7 linked regions of the Homo sapiens genome follow. The protein of the gene in region 1 purifies or fractionates together with the protein of each later gene. This does not show direct contact. Each region holds a gene or a part of one and is shown on either strand. Other genes may lie near its edges. The genes, in order: STRA6, GPR89A, CMKLR1, CCR9, MTMR1, TMEM154 and TRDN.

What was found.
Region 2: the proteins of STRA6 (region 1) and GPR89A purify together in Homo sapiens (affinity purification with mass spectrometry, with the first as the bait; one large-scale study listed by BioGRID). This does not show direct contact.
Region 3: the proteins of STRA6 (region 1) and CMKLR1 purify together in Homo sapiens (co-immunoprecipitation; one large-scale study listed by IntAct). This does not show direct contact.
Region 4: the proteins of STRA6 (region 1) and CCR9 purify together in Homo sapiens (co-immunoprecipitation; one large-scale study listed by IntAct). This does not show direct contact.
Region 5: the proteins of STRA6 (region 1) and MTMR1 purify together in Homo sapiens (affinity purification with mass spectrometry; one large-scale study listed by BioGRID and IntAct). This does not show direct contact.
Region 6: the proteins of STRA6 (region 1) and TMEM154 purify together in Homo sapiens (co-immunoprecipitation; one large-scale study listed by IntAct). This does not show direct contact.
Region 7: the proteins of STRA6 (region 1) and TRDN purify together in Homo sapiens (co-immunoprecipitation; one large-scale study listed by IntAct). This does not show direct contact.

Annotation. Positions count from the first base shown.
Region 1 is NC_000015.10:74,189,288-74,192,787, forward strand, and holds part of STRA6 (receptor for retinol uptake STRA6), read right to left. Parts: intron 2,205-3,500; coding exon 2,137-2,204; intron 1,957-2,136; coding exon 1,880-1,956; intron 1,615-1,879; coding exon 1,553-1,614; intron 1-1,552. UniProt on the Homo sapiens protein: Functions as a retinol transporter. Accepts all-trans retinol from the extracellular retinol-binding protein RBP4, facilitates retinol transport across the cell membrane, and then transfers retinol to the cytoplasmic retinol-binding protein RBP1.
Region 2 is NC_000001.11:145,628,488-145,631,987, reverse strand, and holds part of GPR89A (Golgi pH regulator A), read right to left. Parts: intron 1,302-3,500; coding exon 1,181-1,301; intron 325-1,180; coding exon 244-324; intron 1-243. UniProt on the Homo sapiens protein: Voltage-gated channel that enables the transfer of anions such as iodide, chloride, bromide and fluoride which may function in counter-ion conductance and participates in Golgi acidification.
Region 3 is NC_000012.12:108,329,312-108,332,811, forward strand, and holds part of CMKLR1 (chemerin-like receptor 1), read right to left. Parts: intron 897-3,500; 5' UTR 684-896; intron 1-683. UniProt on the Homo sapiens protein: Receptor for the chemoattractant adipokine chemerin/RARRES2 and for the omega-3 fatty acid derived molecule resolvin E1.
Region 4 is NC_000003.12:45,885,234-45,889,342, reverse strand, and holds the start of CCR9 (C-C chemokine receptor type 9), read right to left. Parts: upstream 2,801-4,109; 5' UTR 2,688-2,800; intron 1-2,687.
Region 5 is NC_000023.11:150,724,396-150,727,895, reverse strand, and holds part of MTMR1 (phosphatidylinositol-3-phosphate phosphatase MTMR1), read right to left. Parts: intron 682-3,500; coding exon 587-681; intron 213-586; coding exon 105-212; intron 1-104. UniProt on the Homo sapiens protein: Lipid phosphatase that specifically dephosphorylates the D-3 position of phosphatidylinositol 3-phosphate, generating phosphatidylinositol. Could also dephosphorylate phosphatidylinositol 3,5-bisphosphate to produce phosphatidylinositol 5-phosphate.
Region 6 is NC_000004.12:152,652,498-152,655,997, forward strand, and holds part of TMEM154 (transmembrane protein 154 precursor), read right to left. Parts: intron 431-3,500; coding exon 170-430; intron 80-169; coding exon 41-79; intron 1-40.
Region 7 is NC_000006.12:123,218,395-123,220,950, forward strand, and holds part of TRDN (triadin), read right to left. Parts: intron 347-2,556; coding exon 207-346; 3' UTR 1-206. UniProt on the Homo sapiens protein: Contributes to the regulation of lumenal Ca2+ release via the sarcoplasmic reticulum calcium release channels RYR1 and RYR2, a key step in triggering skeletal and heart muscle contraction.

The sequences.
Region 1 (3,500 bases):
CCCACAGTGAGGGCCCCATCCCAGGAAAGGGTTTTCTGTGCTAACAGGGGAGACGCTGGGGAAGAAACTGGCAGCACACAGGCCCCAGCCACATGCCCATTGCCCATCAGTGTTCTTATCTGCCCCTTAGAGCAGGGATCTCACGCCTCTAAATGAGGACATTACAGACAGGTGCAATCACAGCCTAATAGGCCAAAGGCATGCCTTCGAGCACCGTAACTTCATATAGTCAGCCCTGCGTATCTGTGGGTTCCACATCCACAACCAACCAATTCAATCAAGCGCAGATCAAAAATATTTGGGGAAAAACCCTCAATAAAAAATAACAATTCAATACAAATAATACAAATAAAAAATAATACAGTAGGACAACTTCTTCTTTTTTTTTTTTTTTTGAGATGGAGTCTTGCTCTGTGGCCAGGCTGGAGTGCAGTGGCGCGATCTCGGCTCACTGCAACCTCCACCTCCCAGGTTCAAGCAATTCTCCTGCCTCAGCCTCCTGAGTAGCTGGGACTACAGGCCCGCGCCACCACCGCCAGCTAATTTTTATATTTTTAGTAGAGACAGGGTTTCACTACATTGGCTGGGATGGTCTCAATCTCTTGACATTGTGATCCGCCCGCCTCAGCCTCCCAAAGTGCTGGGATTACAGGTGTGAGCCACCACACCCAGACATAGGACAACTGTTTACATAGCACTTATGTTCGATATTATAAGTACTTTAGAGATAACGAGGTATACTGGAGAATGTGTGTAGGCTATATGCAAATACTACACCATCGTATATCAGAAATTTGAGCCTTTGGATTTTGGTATGGAGGGGTGTTCCTGGAACCAACCCACCTCAGATACTGAGGGATGACTGTGTCTGCACCTCTATCTATTTACCCATCATCTATCTATCTAAACTTTGGAATGTAAAATTTCTGGTTTTTCTATGTTGTGAAAGTAAATGAGCACAGGAATTAAAGCTGGACAGACTTGGATTCAAACTTAGGCTACGCTGAGATATTAGCTGTGCAGAAACTTGGCCAAGTCAAATTCACCTCTCCAAGCTTCCATTCTCCCCATCTGTAAAGTGGAGAATAATCATACCCATCTCCCAGGATTTTAATTGTTGTTGTTGGTTTTTTCGGGGTTTTTTTTTTTTCGGAGGTGGTGAGGCAGAGTTTATCAAACATGTTGTCTTGCTAAATCTTCCCAATTACTCAAAGAGGAAAATTATTCTATTTTCTCCTTTTTACAGATGAGCTAACAGGTTCAGAGAGGTTATATAACTTGCCCAAGGCCACACAGGAGGTAAATAGTGGAGCTAGGATTTAAATTCGTGTTTATGTGGCCTCCAAAATTAATGCTCCGAGTCACTTCATGAGTCCAAGAGTGAACACCCCGGCCCTTCTGGGTAGGCCAGAACTCCCAAGATGGCCTGCAGCACCTGGTCAGGGTTCTGGATGGAGCACCTGGAGAGCTGGGTTGGGCCGGAACTGCTCCAGGCTTGGGGGTTGAGGGCAGGGCTCCAGAGGCAGATGGCAGTACAGGGTGAGGGACATACCTGGTAAATGGCCGTCCCTGTCAGTGTAGCTGAAAGCACCAGCTTCAGCGGGAGATGGAATCCTGTAGTCCTCAAAGGAAGGAGTATGGTGAACAGCACCACTCAGGCCCGGGAGCCCTCCTCCCTCCCAAGGGGCCCAGGAAAAGGGCCAGCAGGACCCTAAATGACCAAGGCCAGGCCAGGGTCTTCCCGCTGTCCCAAGCTGGTAGTTGTCCCTCTTGATGACAAGGATTCTGGGGAGCAGGAGCCAGTCCTCCACTGCAGCCATTCTGTGCAAGGGAGGGTAACGTCCCCTGTCACGCTCGGCCTCAGCTCCCAACCCCATACCTGGCTGTGGAGTGTAGATGCAGTGTCTCAAGCAGACGCGGGCCCAGGACAGGAAGCCATGCTTGGAGGTGTGGTAGCTGCAGAAAGACCCAGGCAGGTGCGGGGTCCTCAGGGGAAGCCCATTCCCTGAGGGCCAGCCCCAGAGGCTGGTCATTCTTCCCCTCTGCCCCTGCCATGCTGCCCAGTGCCAGCTTCCCAAGCACGGCTGCTAACCAGCCCAATCCATTGGCCCACAAAGGGTGTGTCAGAGACCCCACCTGCTTCCCAGCTTCTTCCTGCAAAGGAGGTTCCTCAGATATTCCTCAGAGTAGCTGCTCTGCAGCCCCTGTGGAGACAGACAATTGAACAAGCAGATGAGATCTGCCTCGACCCATTCGTGGGTCCCTGGCTCAGGGAACTAGAGTGTTCACCAAGCAGGTGCTCCATAAAAACCTGTTGGCCATGGCGGTGGTGGTGAGTGTGGATGGGGCTGACCTGTGGGGATGAGGTCCGTGCCCTCCAAAGCTTCCCTTTTCTCTCTCACAAATACAAGGCCAGTCTCCTATCAAAGAACCATCAATGCCAGGAAGTTCTTCCTAAGATCTGTCTCCAACTCTCGCCTGCTTTACTCAGTCACATCTCTTCACCGTTTCTTCCCACCCCTAGCCCTCTGGCCTCTGCTAGCTGAAACTGGGGCAAAGGGAAGCTTGTGTCCCACGGGCACATCCTAGACCAGGACACAGAAGAGGGTCATTCCAGGTCAGACACCCTCAGGCTTCTCCTGCTGCCACTGCGCAAGGGAGATCACAAGGGTGACCAGATTTGTCTAAGCCACATTCCAGGCCTTAAGCTGCCTGTGAAGTAGCAGAGGCCCATGGGAAGATGGGGTGAGCCCCTGCCTGGAATCACTGGGAGAACACAGGCTGTTGTCACTTGTTGCCATGACAACCCTGGGATCCCGGGCAGGAGTGGGTCAGCTCAAAGCTTGATGGGGGTCCTTTGAGACTTAAACCTCTTTGACCAAAGTCCAAAGAGGATTGTACACCTCTCAAGCCTGGGAGGAAAGGCTGGCAATGGAGAGAGAGATGGGGTGGTGGAAACCCTGGAAGAGAAGGTAAAGGGGCATGCCTCAGGCACTGTGTCGTCCCGGGGGGCCGCTCCCTTTTCAGAGCCAGCTGTAAACAGGAGGGGACACAGGCTTCCTCGAGGGGTGTTGGCCTCAATAGGCAGGAGCTACAAGCGCTCAGAACTCCCTGCCTGCCACGTGGGAGCCGAGTCTGGAGTCCGTGGGCCTTCTCGGACCAGAGTAGCCCAAAAGGGACCCGGGGTTCTCCATCCTGCCTAGGGATCTCACTCACTCTCTGGATTCAGTCTGACCTTGCCGAGTTAACACCCGGTCCCAGCCCCTCTGCTGAGCTCCAGACTTTGAGCAGTACACCCTCAGGACCAAGCATCATCCCAGGAGCACCTGCTCCTCCCTCCACCTTCCCTGGGCCAGCAGCTGGCACCACCACCTACCTGCTGGCTGGCCAGGTGCCTCCCATCAAGCCTTTCCTTCCCCTGCCCTGTCTGAAGAGAAGCCACGCCCTTTGGCCTCTATGTCTTAAGACTTTCTCCTGAGTCTGTTCTTCTTTCCCCTTTG
Region 2 (3,500 bases), on another chromosome or scaffold:
GGGTCTCACTATGTTACCCAGGCTAGTCTCGAACTTCTGGGCTCAAATGATCCCCCCGTCGTGGCCTCCCAAAGTGCTGGGATCACAGGTGTGAGCCACTGTGTCCAGCCAACACTAAATCTGGTACTTTACCTTATAGTAAAAATGAATAAGATAAAATTCCCTGCCAGCACCAATTCACAGTCAAATTTTCTTGTTGAGAAATTGTAAGAGTCCAAATGTATTACAGTGTTGATATCTTACCTTTTCTTTTTGCTTATGATCATATCCATGGTTTGCAGCAGTCGCCGTTCCAGGGCTAGAATATCCGTGTCAGTCACATTCCTACAAAAAGCACAAACTGCTAGCAAAATGTTTTGGGGTCCCACTCTTGGGCATGATACAGGGTATCTGGAGACAAACATAGACTTCAACTGTTACCTACTACTTTTTTCTAGAAAATAGTAAAATGACCATAATAAACTAAAATGCCTTTGCTCTCATTTCTTATAGCTAATCCTCTGGGATCTCAGGGAAATGGAATTCACCCAGCTCTCTTACAGTTTTTCTTAGCTTTGATCCAGTTACATTTATATATATATATAAAATATATATTTAAATATTTTTATTTTATTTTTTATTATACTTTAAGTTCTCGGATACATGTGTAGAACATGCAGGTTTGTTACATAGGTATACACGTGCCATGATGGTTTGCTGCACCCATCAACCCGTCATTTATTTATGAAAGAGTCTAGCTCTGTCGCCGAGGCTGGAGTGCAGTGGCATGATCTCAGCTCAGTGACATTTAGGATGTATGTTTAAGCACACTTTTAACTTGGCATTGTCTTCTACTGTTCTGTTAATATCTAGGAGGGGAGCTGAACTGCTGAAGTTGGAGTTGGTTTATACTGCTGGTCACTAGAAATGTGCCTTTAAAAAAGTGGGAGGGGAGTGTCAGATTGAAATTTGCCATTTAAAAAATAAATGAATGTAGGACAAATAATAAAGGCAAGCCGTACAAGTGATAATACTTATTTAGAAAGATTTCCAGGTCAATGCCCACAGGGACAGAGGAAGAGAAGAATAAAAAGACAGTGTCATAGATCTAATATATAATCTTAAAGATGGTGGCATAATATGACATATGTATTCAAGAAGTAATGGGGCAAAAAAGAAAGGATGCAAAGCGCTCTGTTACCTGAGGAAGTAAGACATGTAAGTGTATGGGCAGTTGACAGCACCAAATCCAGAAAGAAGAGCCATGAGAGTCACTCCAATCACACCAACCCGGCTGATGAGCTGTTCTATGGATAAGATCCCTAAAAACATCAAGGCACATTAATGCCAGGTAATATAGACAAAATGGCTCTCATCTGTACTGCAAAAGGAAACATTATTTAAAACATTAACCATTACACATAACTAACTCATACAAGCCAACTTTTAATTATTAATGTGTAGATGATTTATAATAAATATACTAAAAGTTTACTGATTTTCCTCCTGTCCCATATGCTTCAGAGTGATCTCTTTTATTGGGTGATAGCAGTAAAATAATAACAACAATAATTATAAATAACAATCATTGACTGTTTACTCTTGGTAGCATGAATGCTAACAAAGCAAAGTACTTTTAGTAAAAGCATCGGCCAAAAAAAAAAAAACTAAGAAAGTAAATCTGCTGGAAAAGTATAAATAGCAGGAACTACTTTGTGCTAATTATCTTTGATATATATGTATTTCCCCTAAGGTGATACTCTTTTGCTTTTGTCTTATTCTTTTTTGCATCCAATAAACACAGAATTCATCTAATAAAAGGACTAAACTTATAGATGAATGAGTAATTCAAAGGCAAACACATCAGTTTCGGATTATAAATTGTATCCTAATTATCAATTGTTTCATATCACGTGAGAATGCTGAAAATCAACTTAGCAGTTAAAATAAATACTGCTGGTTGATGTATTTGGGATAAATGAGAGAAAGCAATGCTGAAGAATAACTCAGTAAGTTTGGCATTGCAGAAAAAGAATGGTTTTAACTGGTTTTCACTTTCTATTTCTAGGATAGAATTCACTACAGCCATCCACTCCTATGGTCAAATGCCAGAGCTATAATTCAGGAATTCTGTCAGCTTCAAAACTGAAAATTCCAATATTCCTTTTCTGACTACTGGCCTCCATTCCTAGTCTTTCTATTTCCACTACACTCGTTTTAGAGGTCAGTGCAACCTCTGGTCTTCTGCTTCTCCATTCTTCACCTAGCTTGGACTCCAGGCTTGCTGGCTTCAAATTCTCTCACCAGGAGCCTCAATCTCCTACTATCTTCCTTCTGAAGCGCTAATCCTACAAATTCCCAACTCTGGATCAGTCTAACACTCTGCCTTCCCTGTGCCCATGTTTTGCTGCCTCAAATTGCTAGAATGCGTACTGATTTTGGAGCCATTACAAATGTATGGTCTCCAGTCCTAAGAGAGCTCTCACACTATTGACTAATCCTTATCTTGCCCTTGGTCAGCCATCTCTCTCCATTGTCTTCGGCAGTTACTCTTTATTTTTCCTACCTTTGTCCTTCTCCTTTGCCAATGTCCTTATTATAAAAGACATAGCTATTAGCCATAAACTACCTTCACTCTACACTATGGTCATGAATTTTCTCCTGGTTGCAAAATTCAACATTTTCCAATCTTTGTTTTATGGGCTGTTTTATAACATTGAATATACATCTGCAATCATCCTCCCAACTTGTCTCCCTTAGAACAAAGTAGCATCCAAAGCTGACTTCTCCACTTGTGCTTCTGATCTTCTCTGGGCCCTGGGAACTGTCTCATCCTTATATGTGAGTTCTGGGATATTGCTAGTGATAATCTTGGTGCTATTTGTTTTTGGTTTTCTGCCAGGGGGGTAAGCAAAGCCAGCTTGCCCCTACGCCACCATCTTGGAACTAGCAGTCACCATACTTTTGATTGTATTCAATCCCTTCCACCTCTTTCAGAGTCTTGTTCCATCATCTGTCTCCTCTCTCTTGTATATTCAATATTTCCTTCTTTGCTAGTTCTTTCTCTTTAGTTTCAATTCTCTTTTCTAAGAGAAATTCTGTTCTTGGCTTCGAGTTTACGTCTAGTTACCAACCCCCATCTATTTCCTCCTTAATAGCCAGGCTTCTTAAAAGAAGTTTATAGTTATTGTCACCTTTTCTTCACCTCCAGTTCATTCCTTAACTGACTGCAATCCAGCTTTCTTCCCATTCTTCTTTATTGAATGAAATTACTTTCACTAGTAATTGTAATGGCAATAGGTAATATTCACCAAGCACCTGCTATGACTAGGCACTGTTCTAAGCATTTCACATGTTCTAATTCATTTAACCCTCATAACAATCCTATGAGGTAGATATTATTGAAAACCTAATTTTACAGATGAAGAAATGGAGGCACAGAGAGGTTAAGTAACTTAGTTAAGGCCACACAGATAAAAGGGGCAGAGTCAGGATTCAAGTGCAGTCTAGCTCCAGAGTCT
Region 3 (3,500 bases), on another chromosome or scaffold:
ACTCCCTGCACTCATCAAGTCTCTGGATCTGTGTTCATGCAGCTCTCCCTGCCTAAAATCTCTCTCATGTCTAGCCAACTGCTCCTATAAGCAACTGAAGGCCAATTCACCCTTTGAACCCAGCTCGAATATATGCTTCCTTCTCGAAGCACTATTTCCTGGCTTCCCCAGTGAAAGCTACCTCCACTTCACTCCTGCAGTACTTTGCACACTAAATGTATCAAGCAGGCATAAGTGGGAGGGTATTTAACAATAAGCACTTGGTAAAAATGGCCCAGTAGTCACTTACTGTTCTGAATGGATGATGAATGGAATCATCATGGGTGACTGTGACCTGTGAGCAAAATTTGCCCCAAGCAACCAACATTAAAGCCAACCTTCTGGCTAGATGGGCCTCCACTCTGTCTGTTTACTCACCTGTCTCCCACTCAACAGGAGCTCCCTGTATCCCATGCTCCTAGCACACAGTTAGTGCTCAGTAAATGCTTGTGAAGTGAACAGAGGCTCCTTTAAACAAATCCTTTTTGAGTTTCAGTTTTCCCATCTGAAAAATGGGAGTGTAGTCTAACTTAGGGTGACAAATGATTATCTCAGATGGCCACTGTCATTCGTTGTTTTAAGATGAAGATGGTAGATTGTCTTTAAAGATAGACTCTAACATCCCACCCTGCCCCAATACTCACATGTCACGCCTCCCATCAAGAAGTGGACTCTATTTCTCCTCCCCTTGAATCTGCACTGGCATGGTGAGTTGCTGTGACCAACAGAAAGTGGTAGAAGTGATGCTGTGCTAGTCCCAGCCTAGATCTCTAGATGCCATCAGCTTCTGCTATCATTGTTGCAGAGCCCTGAGCCTCCTGGTAGAAAAATCCAAGCAGTTCTGCTGGAGAGATGGGCTACAGAGAGAGAGAAAGAGAGAAACAGAGCACACAAGTTCCAGGATGTGAGATCATCTTATATATCCCAGCCCCAGTCAAGCTCCCAGCTGAATGCAGCCCATGAGTAACGCAGCCAACACTATGTGGAGCAGAGATGCACTGTCCCTGCAGAACTCTGCTAAGTTGCATAATTATAAATGAATAAGTCAGTTCAAGCCACTAAATTTGGGGGTGTTTGATCCACAAAGATAAATGACAAAGACATCTGGGTTCAACTAGAGGAAAAGTCATGACTGATGTGTGATGTCTGCCACAGCACATGGTGAGGGGTGTGGACTTCCATCCCTGGACTAGATCATGTCAAGGTCAGTGCCAATTCAATTCAATGCCAATTCGTGATTCTTCTGGGACCTTCTAGAAATGCAAGTTCCAGATTCAGAGGGAATCCATCCACCATCAGAGAGAACCCCAGCAGGGATCCAGTGGGGACCCTGGAAGGATTACATGAACCAATGAGGTAGCCCCTCTTGGGGCATATAAACAGTGACTTGGAAATAAAGTAGAGCAGTTGGTAGCAGGACTGGGAGCAGAAGGAGGTAGACATAGGAGACACTGAGCCCCATTGATAGTAGAACAGCTGAATGGGGGCTGCAGGCTCCTGCAGCCTAGGGGACAAAGATAATCCAGCCCTCAAGCCAACACATATCCCAAGAGCCTTCCAGGTCAAACACAAGGCTGGCTGGGCAGCTGGCACCTTCTCCCCTCCTAGTTAGCATCCACATCCTCAAAAATGAACCTCCTCTCTTACAGGGGGGAAGAGAAGGAGCCCTTGTGCTCCTTGCAGCCCATGAGCCAGACAAGCATGTCTCCCTAGCATGGGGCAGAGACAGAAAGGTTCTCATAACTAGAAATCACCAGTACCTGGGATGGAGAGACTCAAGCTGGGAAGTTAAACTCCTGGGGGATCATTCATTCCTGTTGAGCCTCCTACCAGGTGCCAGACACTTAACTCTTACTATCTCCTTCCATCCTAACTACTACCCTATGTACAACATGCCGCCATCCCCATTTCACAGATGGGAGAACCCCCTCGTTCAGAGTCAGCAGGTTCATAAGTGCAGGGACGTGAACGCAGTCTAAATGATGCCAAAGTCTGGTTCCTGGTTCGGTCCTGATAATCACTGAATACTCCCTGGTAAAGCCTCACTGGTTGCTACACTTGCATCCATTCTAATTGGTCAATACTCTGCTGAACCAACTGTCAATAGATGGCCACCTGAACTCCCAATATCTAAATTCGAAATTCAAGAAACAATCAGATGCAGACCAATGTCACTGTTAGACAGAATAACAGATCCCCAAAGATGTCCACATCCTAATCCCCAGAACCTGTAAATATGTCATCCTACATGGCAAAAGACACTTTGCAGACGTCATTAGGAATCTTGAGATGGTGGGATTATGCTGGATTACCCAGGTGAGCTCAGCGTCTTTAAAAATGAGACAGAGAGGCAGGAGAGTCAAAGTGATTTGATGTGACGAGGACTCAACCTGCGGTTGCTGGCTTTGAAGGCTGGGGAAGGGGACCATGAGTCAAGGAATGTGGCAGCCTCTAGAAGCTGGAAAAGGAGGGCAAACAGATTCTCCCCTAGGGCCTCCGGAAGAGATGCAATCTTTGATTTTAGCCCAGTGAAACCCATTTGGGACTTCTGACCTCCAGAACTAATAAGATAATAAGTTTGTGTTGTTTTAAGCCATTCGGTTTATGGTTATTGTTATAGCAGTAACAGGAAACATATACACTTGCTACCTGAATTCTTACTTCATATAACACTCAGGAATTCATAGATTCTGATAACTGTTCAAACCAATTCAGGTAACAAAGGATGGGCATTTGAGTGTCCCCTGCCCTTATTCCCCACCCCAAGTCATTTACTGAGCACCTACTCCAGGCCAAAGAACATGGCAGACACTCTCTCAACAACCCTGGGCAGGAGGAAACTGAGGCCTAAAGAGGTTATATGTATGTGACTTGCACATGCTCACAAAAACAATAGGTGGCCGGGCTCACCGCAAAAACATGCGGTGGCTCATGCCTGCAATCCTAGCACTTTGGGAGGCCAAGGCAGGTGAATCACTTGAGTCCAGGAGTTCAAGACCAGCTTGGGCAATGTGGTGAGACCCTGTGTGATGGTTAATACTGAGTGTCAACTTGATTGGATTAAAATATAATAAGTATTAATCCTGCATGTGTCTGTGTGGGTGTTGCCAAAAGAGATTAACATTTGAGTCAGTGGGCTGGGGAAGGCAGATCCACCCTTACTCCGGTGGGCACAATCTAATTAGCTTCCAGAGACTATAAAGCAGGCAGAAAAACCTGAAAAGGAGAGACCGGCCTAGCCTCCCAGCCTACATCTTTCTACCATGCTGGATGCTTCTTGCCCTCGAACATCGGATTCCAAGTTCTCCAGTTTTGGGACTCAGACTGATTCTCCTTGCAGATGGCCTATTGTGTGACCTTGTGATCATGTAAATTAATACTTAATAAGCTCCCCCTTTTTATATGTAGAGAGTGAACCGTAAGAGAACCCTCTAAGAGAACCCTGACTAATACATCCTGTC
Region 4 (4,109 bases), on another chromosome or scaffold:
CTAGCTTTCTATAAAGGTTTCTCTTTATTTTTTTTTTTAAAGGTAATATATAAACACAAGCCAGGCAAGATGGCTCATGCCTGTAATTCCAACACTTTGGGAGGCTGAGGTGGGAGCATCACTTGAGGCCAGGAATTTGAGATCAGCCTGGGCAACAGAGCAAGACCCCATCTCTACAAAAAATTTAAAAATATGCCAGGCATGGTTGCCTACCCTGTAGTCCCAGCTACTCAGCTGGCTGACGCAGGACAATCGCTTGAACCCAGGAGTTCAAGGCTGAAGTGAGCTAACATTGCACTGCTGCACTGCAGCCTGAGTGACAGAGCAAGACCCTGTCTCTAAAATAAATAAACAAATAGTATATATCATGTAATATATTATGGTGTATAATAGAATGTAATATATTACAGTTTATAAAATATGCATCTGCTTCTGGCTCATAGAAAATTTGGAGAGAGCCAAAGAGTAAAAACAGGACATACCCCTCCCTAGAGCCCACATCTAGAACCTCCACAGACAGCCTTGCCATCTATTTCTCTTTCATTTTTGTCAGAATACTTCTCAAATATTTTATTCTCCCAGCTACTAAGTCTCAGTGCTTGCTTTCATTTTTGTCTTGCCAGTGAGAAAGCGGGAAAAATATAGGGGGGAAAATCCCACATATGACCAAACATACTGAGAGTGAGGACCATCTCAGCGGTCTGTCGGGAGTGGATGGGCAGTTGACTCAGCACTGTGGCAAATCTCTCCCTTGCTGCTCAGTGAGGCCTTGTTGCAGGTGCCATGGGCCATCCATCGAACCCACTTATTCAATGTGCCTTGAGTACCTGATACATTTATTTGGCTTAAACAATGTGTAAGACATGATCCATGTCCTCAAGAAGCTTGCATTCAAATACACTGAGTAAGTCATGGCTGCAAATAACAACAAAGGGAAAGTGCTATGAGTTGTGGTAGGAATTGGAAGAAGGAGGTCATGTCTTTAGCTCTGGGGAGAATCCAGGAGGGCTTCATTGAAGAGGTGACATTTTTGCGGGTCCTTGAAGGCCGAAGAGCATGGAGACATGCAACGAGGGGAGGGAACATTGCTCCAGGGTGGGAAAACATATGCACTAAGGCATGAAAGTCAGAAAGCATGGGGTATGTGCAGGGACCTGGGAGATAAAGGAAGGGAGAGAGCTGCTAATTCTCCAAAAGAGAAAAGTGCCTATTAGAAAAGTTAGCTTGGAACCTATTATTATCCAATCACTATTTTTGTATTCTCTAACATTCTTACGTAGCCAACATGAAAATCAGCATGGGGTTATTGTGCACACAGCATCTCCCCACACTTATAGCCTCTGATGCTTACAGCACTAACATCAAATCAGATACTAACATGAGTCAGGAATGCAGGTCCTTACTTTGAACTTTGTACAATTTGCTACACGGAGCTTGAATCATCTCTTACATTTTTTCATAGCTCTGCTTTTTGTTCCCTACACGAGGCAGGGTCTCTGAGCCATCTATCAGATCCATCCACTCACCATGCCTGGATCAGATGCCTGCCAACCGCCCAGCAGGGGCTGCACAGGGCCCAGGGGCTCCCAACACAAGCCTGTGAGTGAGGCCTACACAAAGAGGCTTCAGAACAGATAAGCAGATATTGGAAGAAAAGGACTCCGAAATTCCAGATGCTGAAATAGTAAATTAGCTTTTGCTCGTTCAGGAAAGGGAGTAAGGAGATGGGATCCCACAGACTGGCTGCTGCACAGCCCTTCCGGTTCAGCACACAGTGACCACTCTCTGGATGGACTTGCCAGCCGTCTATGGAGTAACAGCTAATTCAGAACTAAAGAGGGTAGGTGTGTTTGAAAAGGCAAACCAGCATCCACTGATGAGTCATTTAAAATAACTTTTTGCTTTACTCTGATCATAAAGGAGTATTTTTACAATGCACAAAAAATCCCCAAAATGCCAACATACATAATATAGAAAATAAAAACTCCTGAAGCACCCTTTCCTAGTTTAGCCATTGTTAAGTTTCTGAGATACTTCCTTTCTGACTTTTTCTCTGTAACACAACCTCACACACACACACACACACACACAGACACACACGCACTTAATAGAAAGGAAATCAGACTACACATATAATCTTCTATCTTGCTTTCTAATTGCCCATCTTTCATGGATCACCTTCCATGCCAATTCAACATAGAACCGTATCATAGAATTGGATGGCTGCTGTGTATTCCATTGTCTAGATACATCACAATTCATTTAACCATTCGCCTCCTGATGCATAGTTTCCTTGTTTCCAGTTTTTCACTGCTACAAAGAATCCTTTCCATGGGGCAGTGTCTCAGACTCAAGGACCTCATGGGTGTGTCCTTTACCCCTGGCCACCATCTTGTCCCCCAGCACCTGCTTCTCCTTCCTTTAAGGTATAAATCACAGACTGCCTTAAGCCTAAGCTTCATGTATGTGAAGGGGGAGGGAGTTTTATTACTCGCCCTACAAGAAACCTGGGTTGGGCATCACCAATTCCCATTTACCTTCCTGGAAGTTTCTAGAAAAGTGCCTGGTGCCCATGACCTCTGAACAAATGAGTGCAAGCCCAGGTTTTAGAAGCCATCATAGCAGCACACAACTGAGGGCCAAGATGACACTGGGTTGGGGGCAACAAGAAGAAGAGCAATACTCACTGTGGAGGGCGATGCAACTCTCCCTGGGACAGCAGGCACCACCAGCTCTCAGTGTCTGGGGAAAGAGCTGGGTTGCTCTCTGCCTGGGATGAGGGGCAGGCTTTGTGGGTTCTGAGCAGGCAGCTACCCGATAACAACACGAGAAAGGAAGCCAGGCCACCCCTGCCTGTGTTGTCACTGGTGGGGTAGCCCAAGAGGGTGGGGAGTCACCTGTGTAGCTTCCAGCAATCAGCGGAGTCAATCATTTGCAACCAGAAACAAAAAGCTGAAAACTGCTGGGATAAGGGGAAACTGTCTCATCTGAAGACGCACATACAGACTGATGATCTAAGAGCAAATTCTCTTCCTAGACAGCACAGCTGCTTACAGGGAATGGGGAAATTGGAGGATCCCATCGAGAGAAGTCAGCCTTGTCAGGCTTGCCAGAGGTGCACACTGATGAGATTTCTTTAGGTGGTGTCACCTGAGCAGGCCTGTATCAGATTACCACCCAGTGGCAGATGTAGCACTATCCATCGCAACATACCTTTTCTGGCCTTGACAGACGTACCAGAACCCGGAGGGCTGTGCTATCCAACACAGTAGCTACTAGGCAGATGTGCCTATTTAAATTCAAATTAATTAAAATGCTAACTAGGGCCAGTGCAGTGGCTCACCTCTGTAGTCCCAGCACTCTGAGAGACTGAGGCGGGCAGATCACTAGGCAGAGCCTAGGAGTTCAAGAACAGCCTGGACAACATGGTGAAACCTCATCTCTACAAAACACACAAAAACAATTAGGCAGGCATGGTGGCCCATGCCTGTAGTCCCAGATACTCAGGGAAGCTGAGGTGGAAGGATCAGGAGGCAGAGGTTGTAGTGAGCCAAGATTGCACCACTGCACTCCACCCTGGGCAACAGACTGAGACCCTGTATCAAAAAAGAAAAATGTTTTAAGTGTTAACTAGTTTCTCAGTCATGCCAGGTACATTTCAAGTGCTCAATAGCCACATGCAGCTAGTGGCTATCCCAATGGACAATGCAGATACAGAACCTGTCCATCGTCGCCAACAGTGCTATTGAAAGGCACTGCTTTAGAAAGTCTGCCTGTGAGATGTAGCTAGGAACACATGGAGTGCTGGAAAGCCACAGACACCTTCAAATTGGGGCAAATCTAGTAAGGTTTTGCACATCAGATACATTAACAAAGATAATACAATAAATTGTATTAATTACAGGTGTTTTGGTAAAACTTTGAAAAAAGCTAAATATACAAAATATTGCATTTTTAATGAAGATCACAGACGAAGTCTTCCCATCCACTGCTACAGTGGGGACTTCAATCCTGATGTGATTAATGATTTCCTGTCATTGTTATGACAAAGATCCCTTTTATATATTTGTTCTGGGGGAAAATCATGACTACACTCTTGTGGATGTTAA
Region 5 (3,500 bases), on another chromosome or scaffold:
CAGTACAAATTATTCTACTGTCCAAAGACCATGAAGAGACTGAGGGAGAAAAAGTTCAGAGCTGATTGCCCTCTTTTAGTTTTCACTTGGCGTTTCTATTATACCTTGCACACTATCTCTATACCACAGGAATTGTCTCCATGGCTCTGTGCTCCAATCTTCTCCACTCTGCTGATCACTCCAAGGGGAACATCAAGGATAAAATGCGGGTCCTAGGTTCAAAAATTAAGATCAATGCCTATTAGTGTCAGTCAACAGTTTTCATATTTTAAGTCTTTGCTGGGTTACAAAACATGTTTGTTTACTTCGCATTTCCTCTTTGTCCCAGCTAAATTGAAGTCTGATTGACAGCATTCCTTGTGAAATATATATTGAGACAACAATGGAATTTCCCCTCCAGGTTTAAGCGGTACTTTAACAGCCTTTGTTTTCAAGATACAAACATCTGTTTGCAAATGTGTGCATCTCAAAATCCAACCTGTGGTTATCTCAGGGTAATGGGATTTCAGGGGACTTTTTACTTTCTTCTTTTAGTGTTCTTTTAAAAGTGTTTCTTTTAAAATAAAACACACTTTAAAAAACTCACCCTCTCGACATTTTTGAAGTACAGCTTAAAGTCCGTCACTGTCAGGGTTCCACTCACTGCTCCCATAAATGGGCAGATATACATGACATCTTTCACTGAAAGAAAAAGGCCAAAGTAGCAACTACTGCCATAGACTTGTGCTTCCATAAAACTTAACACGAGTTTTCCAAATATATATTTGTGATTCCAGTTTTCCAGGAATTTTGTATTTTATAGGATTATATCAATTATGACTTTCAATATAGAGAGATGCATAGTCTTCTAATAAATTTCAATTTTTTAAAACAAAATTCTGATTTGCTACTTAATGAGGTTTTAAGTAAAGGGCCTCATAAGAAGTTATATTCTGTCATTTTTCCTAGGTAGTTAACATTTTCCCTGGGTGATAAATTAATCATATTCAAAACATTAATTAAACTCTGAAAACCCTGGGCTACTGTTTCATGAATTACTGCTACTTAAAACTAATGAAAACTAAAGATTGTCTCCTAATGCATCTCCAAAGGAAACTCTTTTTACAGAAGACAAAACCTAGAACCACATCAATGAAATGGAAAAAGACTTATTTCAAATTCCTTATCCCCTTATCAGTTTTAATTTTTTGTCAATATCTATTAAGTGCGTGACATATTTAATTCCCATTAGTGTTAAGAAGCTCACTTCTATCACAAAGATACCACATCTTCATGTTTTCCCAAAGTGCCATTCCACTGGAATGACAAGAATATACATAGCTATATATGAGTCCAAGTGAGACAACAAAAGGCATTAACGTCATTGAACCAAATTCTCAGAATACTTCCATTGAACTTTTCTATACTCCTTATGTACTGAGAGCCTTCTATTGCTGGGATTCTGGGTATAATTGGAAGAAGTTCCTGTCCATGAGCAGCCCATGACCTGTGAGAGATACCACACAGAAAAATCGCCATTATACTAGAGCAGAGGTCCCCAACCTTTTCGGCACCAGGGACTGGTTTCATGGAAGACAACTGTTCCATGGACCAGGGCAGAGGTAGGGGGATGGTTTCAGGATGAAACTGTTTCACCTCAGATTATCAGGCATTAGACCCTCATAAGGAACATACAACCTAGATTCCTCACATGCGCAATTCACAACAGGGTTCACGCTCCTGTGAGAATCTAATGCCACCGCTGATCCGACAGGAGACGGAGCTCAGGCGATAATGCTCACTAGCCCGCTGCTCACCTCCTGCTGTGCAGCCCCGTTCCTAACAGGCCATGGACCAGTGCTGATCCACGGCCCATGGGTTGGGGATCCCTGCACTAGAGGTTGACAAAAGCTAAAATAACAATGTGGACACAAAGTATTACAATGGAAGTTCAGAAAAGGATCAACTTAACTCAATAGGAAAGTGGGTAGGGGGAGTAAGAGAAGGAAGGGAGGAAGGGCACAGTGATAAGTTGTTAGAGGTTAGTATGCCTGGATCAATGGGTGCAGTGAGGACAGTCGAATATGAGGCCAGAGAAGTTGGCAGGGAGTGGATTGGCAAGTGCTTCTGTAGGAGACTAAGGCATTATTATCATTATCCTTAAAAGATAACTGTTTAAACAAAAACAAAAACAATATATTGTGGGGTTTATAACATATGTAAAAGTAAAATGGATGACAACAACAGCATAAAGGGTAGGAGGGGACAAATGGGAGTATACTACTATAAGGTTCTTATCCTGTACATGAAGCAGCATACAATCATTTGAAGGTAGACATAAAGATGTAAAATAACTAGTTACATAACAAAACAAACAATTATAGCTAATATGCAATCACAGGACATAAAATAGAATTCTAAAAAGTAAAAACCCCATAGTCTCGACCCAAAAGCTCCTTCAGCTGATAAACAACTTTGATAAAGTTTCAGGATACAAAATCAGCATACAAAAATCACTAGCATTCCTATACACTAACAACAGCCAGGCCAACAGCCAAATCAGGAATGCAATCCCATTCACAATAGCCACAAAAAGAATAAAATACCTAGGAATATGGCTACCCAGGGAGGTGAAAGATCTGTACAATGAGAATTACAAAATACTGCTCGAAGAAATTAGAGATGACATAAACAAATGGAAACACATTCCATGCTCATGGATAGGAACAATCAATATCGTGAAAATGGCCATACTGCCCAAAGCAATTTATAGATTCAATGCCATTCCTATCAAACTACCAATGACATTCCCAGAACTAGAAAAAAACTATTTAAAAATTCATATGGAACCAAAAAGAATAGCCAAGGCAATCCTAAGCAAAAAGAACAAAGCTGGAGGCATCATGTTACCAGACTTCAAACTATACTACAGGCCCACAGTAACCAAAACAGCATGGTACTGGTACAAAAACAGACACACATAGACAAGTGGAACAGAATAGAGCGCCCAGAAATAAGGGTGCACACCTACAACCCTCTGATCTTCAACAAAAGCAAGCAATAGGGAAAGAATTCCTTATTCAACAAATGGTGCTGGGATAATTAGCTAGCTATATGCAGATGACTGAAACTGGATCCCTTCCTTACACCATATACAAAAATCAATTCAAGATGGATTAGAGACCTAAATGTATAACCCAAATCTGTAAAAACCCTGGAAGACAACCTAGGCAGTACCATTCTGGACATAGGAACTGGCAAAGATTTCATGATAAAGATGCCAAAAGCAATCACAATAAAAGCAAAAGTTGACAAATGGAATCTAATGAAACTAAAGAGCTTCCGCACAGCAAAAGAAACTATCAACAAAGTAAACAGCCTACAGAATGGGAGAAAATATTTGCAAACTATGCATCTGACAAAGGTCTAATATCCAGCATCTATAAGGAATTTAACAAATTTACAAGAAAAAACACAAACAACCCCATTAAAAAGTGGGCAAAGGACAAGAATAGATACTT
Region 6 (3,500 bases), on another chromosome or scaffold:
CCCACCCCCACCTGTAGGCAGGTTTTAGGATAATACTCACATGTCTGTAAAGCACTCTGAGATCCTTGGCTAGAAGGTTCTGTATCAAAGCAAAGAATATTTTGTTTTATTGATTGTTCACTAACACATGAAGCAATTTTCTGGAAATGGAAATACACCAAATATTTACCTTGTTTAGTTCTTTTTCTTTTATAGTATGTTGCAAGGAATACCACGGATAAAAGTAAGAGGACCAATAAAATCAATGGGATTAACACCATCAGTATAAACTCTAACTGATTTTCATCCGGAGCAAAGTTGGTAGAATTTATATTTGCATTTAATGTTTCTTTGATGGTCACTGCAGCAAATGTGCTTGGAATAGTCACTTTATTTGGTCTTTCAGATTCCACAGTTGTATCTCCTGAGTTTTCTAATTCCTCATAATTACCTGTGGGAATAGATACAAAATTGAAATTTCCATGGAGACAAAGTTAGTATGTTATATTGTCAATGATTTTTAAATTATTCCTAGATACATTCTGTGATAAATTTGACCCACTATACTTGGCCTCCAAGCTAAGTGTGACACAGAACATTGATTTAACATAAATGAAGCTCAAGCTGGGAGTGTATTGAATATGGAATCAGAGCTCAGAGAAAAACCTTGCACAAAGGTAGGCAGTTTTGCATTGACCAGACATTTTAGATACGCTTAAGCAAAGTGGATTCGGAAGCTTCCTCATGTTAAGGGTGATTTTCCAAGCCAAGTAATGTGATATTACAGGACATCTCCTATAGGGTATGATAATATTTTAACAAAATGTCTGAATAAATTTAAATTCACATTTACTAAAATTAAGTACATGCCATACAGCACTTTTAGATGTAAAGAAATGCACTCTGTGTCCTAATTTTTTTTTTTTTTTTTGAGGCAGAGTCTTGCTCCATTGCCCAGGCTGGAGCGTAGTGGCATGATCTCAGCTCACTGCAACCTCCACCTCCTGGGTTCAAGCAATTCTCGTGCCTCAGCCTCCAGAGTAGCTGGGATTACAGGCATGTGCCACCATACCCAGCTAATTTTTGTATTTTTAGTAGAGACAGGGTTTCACCATGTTGGCCAGGCTGGTCTCGAACTCCATGCCTCAAGTGATCCACCCGCCTCAGCCTACCAAAGTGCTAGAATTGCAGGTGTGAGCCACTGCGCCTGTCTGTGTCCTAATATTTAAATAAAAGGTTACCTATCAATGGAAAATAATTCTTTGAAAATGAATTGACTGTGCCGGGCATGGTGGTTCACGCCTGTAATCCCAGCACTATGGGAGGCTGAGGTGGGCAGATCACCTGAGGTCAGGAGTTCGAGACCAGCCTGACCAACATGGTGAAACCCTGTCTTTACTAAAAATACAAAAATTAGCTGGGCGTGGTGGTGCATGCCTATAATCCCAGCTACTTGGGAGGCTGAGGCAAGAGAATTGCTTGAACCCAGGAAGCAGAGGTTGCAGTCAGCCAAGATCGCGCCATTGCACTTCAGCCTAGGCAACAAGAGCGACACTCCATCTCAAAAAAAAAAGAAAAAGAAAAAAGAAAAGGAAAATAAAAACCATCAGGATGAGAAAGGACTACTGACTTGATGACTATCTGAAAAACTTTTCCTTACCTGTCTAAGCAGTAGTCATGGTAAGATAAGCTGAAGGTCTTTGTCCTAATATCGTATAATGTTGTCTACCTTTCAGAAGGGGCCAACTGAGGAAAATACCTCGTAAGTTGATGCTACAGAAAACTTATCAAATGAGATAATTTACAAGAAAGTTATTCTAAGGTGAAAGGAACTATGCAAATACAGAAGTCAGCTGCTTTAAACCACACTCTGCGGTATAGGTTAGGCAATTACTTTACAGAATGATCAAACTGGACATTGCAGAGCCAATTCAATAGTTCATCTATCTTCATAATCCCATGACAATGGAGTCCTCTGATTTTGGTTGAAACAATAAAAATGTTTGGTCACTGCTATGAATTGAATGTTTGCATTCCCCTCAAATTCATATATTGAAGCCCTAATCCTCAATGTGATGGATTAGGGCTAAGAGGTGAGGCCTTTGAGAGGTCATTAGGTTTAGATGAGGTCATGAGAGTGGGGACCCTATGACAGGATTATTGCTCCTATGAGAAGATAAGAAAACCAGAGTTCTCTTTCCTTGCCATATGTGGATACGGAAAGGTGGTGACTGCAGGCCAGGGAGAGAGTTCTCACCAAATACTAAATCTTCTAGCACCTTTGATCTTGAACTTCCCAGCCTCCAGAACTGTGAGAAATAAATGTCTGTTGTTTTAAGTCTTGCAGTCTGTGGTATTTTGTTATGGTATCTGAGCTAAGACAGTAAGAATCTAATTGTGTTGATTGTATGAATAAATACTTTCAGTCTCCCACATCAGGGAATTCATTTGATAATCCCTTTAGTAAATGCAACCCCAAACCATCAGAATCAATTACAAACTACAGAGTAAACTCACTGGTGTTTCTCATGTGTATATGCCAAAGGCAGGATTGAAAAAAAAAACTACCAATGTTTGAAGAGTGGAGGGGCTTCAAAATGGCTGACTAGATGCATCTGGCAGTCACCTCTTCACAAAAAATAACAAAAATACTGAGTAGATAAGCTACATTTTGAATTGATCATTTAAGGGAGAACACAGGAATTCAACAGAGTAGTAATAGACAACACTTAAAGCACGGAAGGAGAGGGAAATAAGGCATCCTTCTTGGCTGAGACTGGCTGGGAGCCAGGAGAAGCTCCCCAATGTGGGGAAAGGGTAGTGGTCCATATTTCCACTGCAGACTCCTGCAGCCTAGCCACGGGAGAGCCCCTCAACTCTCACAGGCCCTGAGACTAACACTGAGAGCGCCTGTACACTGTGCAATGGCATTGCTCCAGAGAGGGACCTTATGCGGAGTCCCACACACCCCTGAGCCCTAGTGGCTGCAGCACAGTGCCACTTTGAGGGCCCAGCCCCCACCAGACTGTATCCTGCCCTAGGGCCCAACAGCCCCTGAATCTCCATGTCTCTGGAGCTCCTGCCTGCAGCCACCAGCGCTGCTGGCTGCTGCTGCCAGGGCCAAGGTAGGAGCCGCTGGCAGCACCCCTCCCCCCACCCCTGGCCAGCAGCGGGGCGCTCACACATGTTTATGTGCCTCAAGGACAAACTCCACTGTCCTCAGCTATTGCTGCTATAAACTGCTGCTGCTAGGGCCAAAGCATGAGCAAAGCATAGCCCCAGCTGGCTGCCTATGGTTGCTCCCACTGAAAGCAATCCCATCCTCTGCAGTAGCAGGCAGCAGTGTAGTCACTGCTGCCTTCACCTGAGCTTTCTATCAGCAGCCTGGGGATTGCTTCACCCCTACCTATTACAGCCAGCTACTGCATGCCCCACCAGAGAGTCAAAGAACAGGTCTGCACAGGCCAGCTCTCTCCCAGTGCAGTACTTGAGTGTGCCATTTGGGGCCTGGTGATTGCCCA
Region 7 (2,556 bases), on another chromosome or scaffold:
TAACAGATTCTTGAGACTTAGACCCTTAAACATGTCTGCTCATCACTCAATCCATTTGGCCACCCTTTCCGTCCACACCAGGCCAAAGAGCAAAATGTTTTCACAGAAATTCTCTGGGTTGCATATTCTTAATTGCCTGAACTACTGTGGACAAAACATCACATTTTTAAAATCTTAAAGCACTTGTAAGGGTCATACATGTGTGTTTACTGTCCTTGTTGCTTCTGTCCTGGAGAATTTGCTTGACCAGAGCTCTCTCCAGGGCGGTCTGCAGGAGTGAAAGGAAACTGAAATCCATAGCCATTGTACCCATCCAAGTAGACACACTGGAAGAAACTGATGGGACCTAAGGAACAGAGCATGACAGTTTGTTAAAACATGCAGAACATGAGCAAAAAAGCACAGTGAGGCAGTGCAGTGCAGCAGATAAGGTCACAGATTCTGCCAGCAGCCTCCGTAGCTGTTGGCAAGTTACTAAACTTCACTGTGTCTTGGAGTCTTTATGTATAACATCAAAACAACGAAAACCGCACAGAAATATTATGACAGTTAAATGAGTTACATGAGTTACATGTGCTCTTAAAATTCTTCCTGGTATGTAATAAGCCTTTAATAAGTGATAATAAAAATGGCCTGGCAGAGAAAGTCAAAGTTCTGATCATATAGACATCTGTTGATGTGCATAGCAATCATAGAGACATAGTCACAGGTTTCAAAATATGAGCTTATCAATATGCAAAGCAACAGACTGTGTGTGTGTGTTTTATAATGTCACAGAGAGGTGGTGCCAACATCTAGAAGTTTTATTTGCCCTTACTTTAGAGGCAAGAGCTTTCCTAAGGTGGCTTGGTTGCTCTTTGAGCAACAAAGGTAGCAGCCAGGTAGCAGCTCTGAGTAGAAAGCAAAACAGGAAAGTTAAGGGAGTGTGGTGCAAGTAAGGACTCTGGACTCAGTAAGCCGGTGCTCCCAGGTAGCAGCTTTGGTAAAAGATGGCGAGTTTAGCATCTCCTCACAATCTTGGGTGCCTACAAACTTCCAGTGTTTTCTATCCTATCCATTTGCATTCTGTCAACCAGCCATAGATTTTTGCAGAAGGCCAGGAAAGAAAAATCATAGTTAAAGCTAGTGGTGTGTGGGAGATAAAGAAGATGGCCAAATCCATATGAGACTAGGGGTTTATGAAGTAGAATAAAGCAAAGGATAGGAAAAAAGGAAGCTGGAGAAGCAACCAGGGAGTATTCTGATTCCATTTCCATGGGTCACTGGGTTTTCAGGGATGACAATAGTTTGAAGAATCTTGAATTTAGTTATCTTTTCCAATGCATCTCATCTGGAATGATTTCTCTTTTCTTCTATCTTCAAACCGAAGCAATAATACAACTTCCGTCTCTTCAAGTTTGTGGAGGTTATGGGAGCTTGGGGGTTAGGCAGGCTACAAGAGGGACAGTAGTAAAGCCGGCCCTGCACAAGGAGAAATGGAAATCCATTGCTAAAAGTAGAAGGGCCCATCAATGACAGGCTGCCTTCCAGCTGCTTATCAGAAGTGGACACTGTTTTGACACATTTATTTAATTGATGTTGAATAAGCTACTCATTAAAATATTATTATGACTGCAAATATTAGAGCTTAAATTAAAGGCTCATGAATATCAGGCTATAGAACTGCCTTCTTGTAAGACGAAGATAGCAAATATCATTTTGATGCAATAGATCCCCCAACTGAGGTTAGAATATTTGACACCATTTTACTAAAAGTATTTGCGTTTTGTTTTTAATTAAAATTTTTACTTTGAAATAATTGTAGACTCACATGTAATTGTAAGAGTTAATACAGAAAGATACCACATATCTTCACCTAGTTTCCTTCAATGGTAACATATTGTAAAACTATAGAACAATATTCCAACTAGGAAACTGGTATTGATACAATTCACCTGTCTCATTGAATTATATTTTAATAGTTATTTAAAATATATGAGATTTCAAATGTTTATGTGACATAGCCACAAATTATTACCAGTAGGTTAATAATTGGGAAAGCGTTGCTATATAAAATGAAAATATGTCCAGATTGACCTATAATTCTTTTTCTTATGGATTTTGTAATATTACTCAAAGTATCATAAGACTCTGCTTATTTCCCTATATTTCTCACAACCTTATTATATGAAGGATTATAATAAGTGTCTTATCTACTGCAGTAGTTCCAGCATCCAAAGAAGTACTTGGAACATAGTAGGCATTCAGTATCTGTCTAATGAATCACCTATTAATACAGAGTAGGAGGCATTTGCTATTGTAAGGGGCACTTTAGTAATTTCCTGCACAAAAACATCCAAAAAGCACTGGAGAATCAAGAGACGTCATTTCTTCAGACAAATATCTAGCTCTTTACTTTAAAAGCATTATGTGACACAAACTTCAGTTATACCTATTTCAAAAATTGCTTCCTTTATTCTGTTCTGCAATGACTTTAATGCAAATACAGATTTAAAATTTATTGCTTTACCATATGAACAAAAATGTCTAATTTGGAAGAACCGAAATAATGAGAAA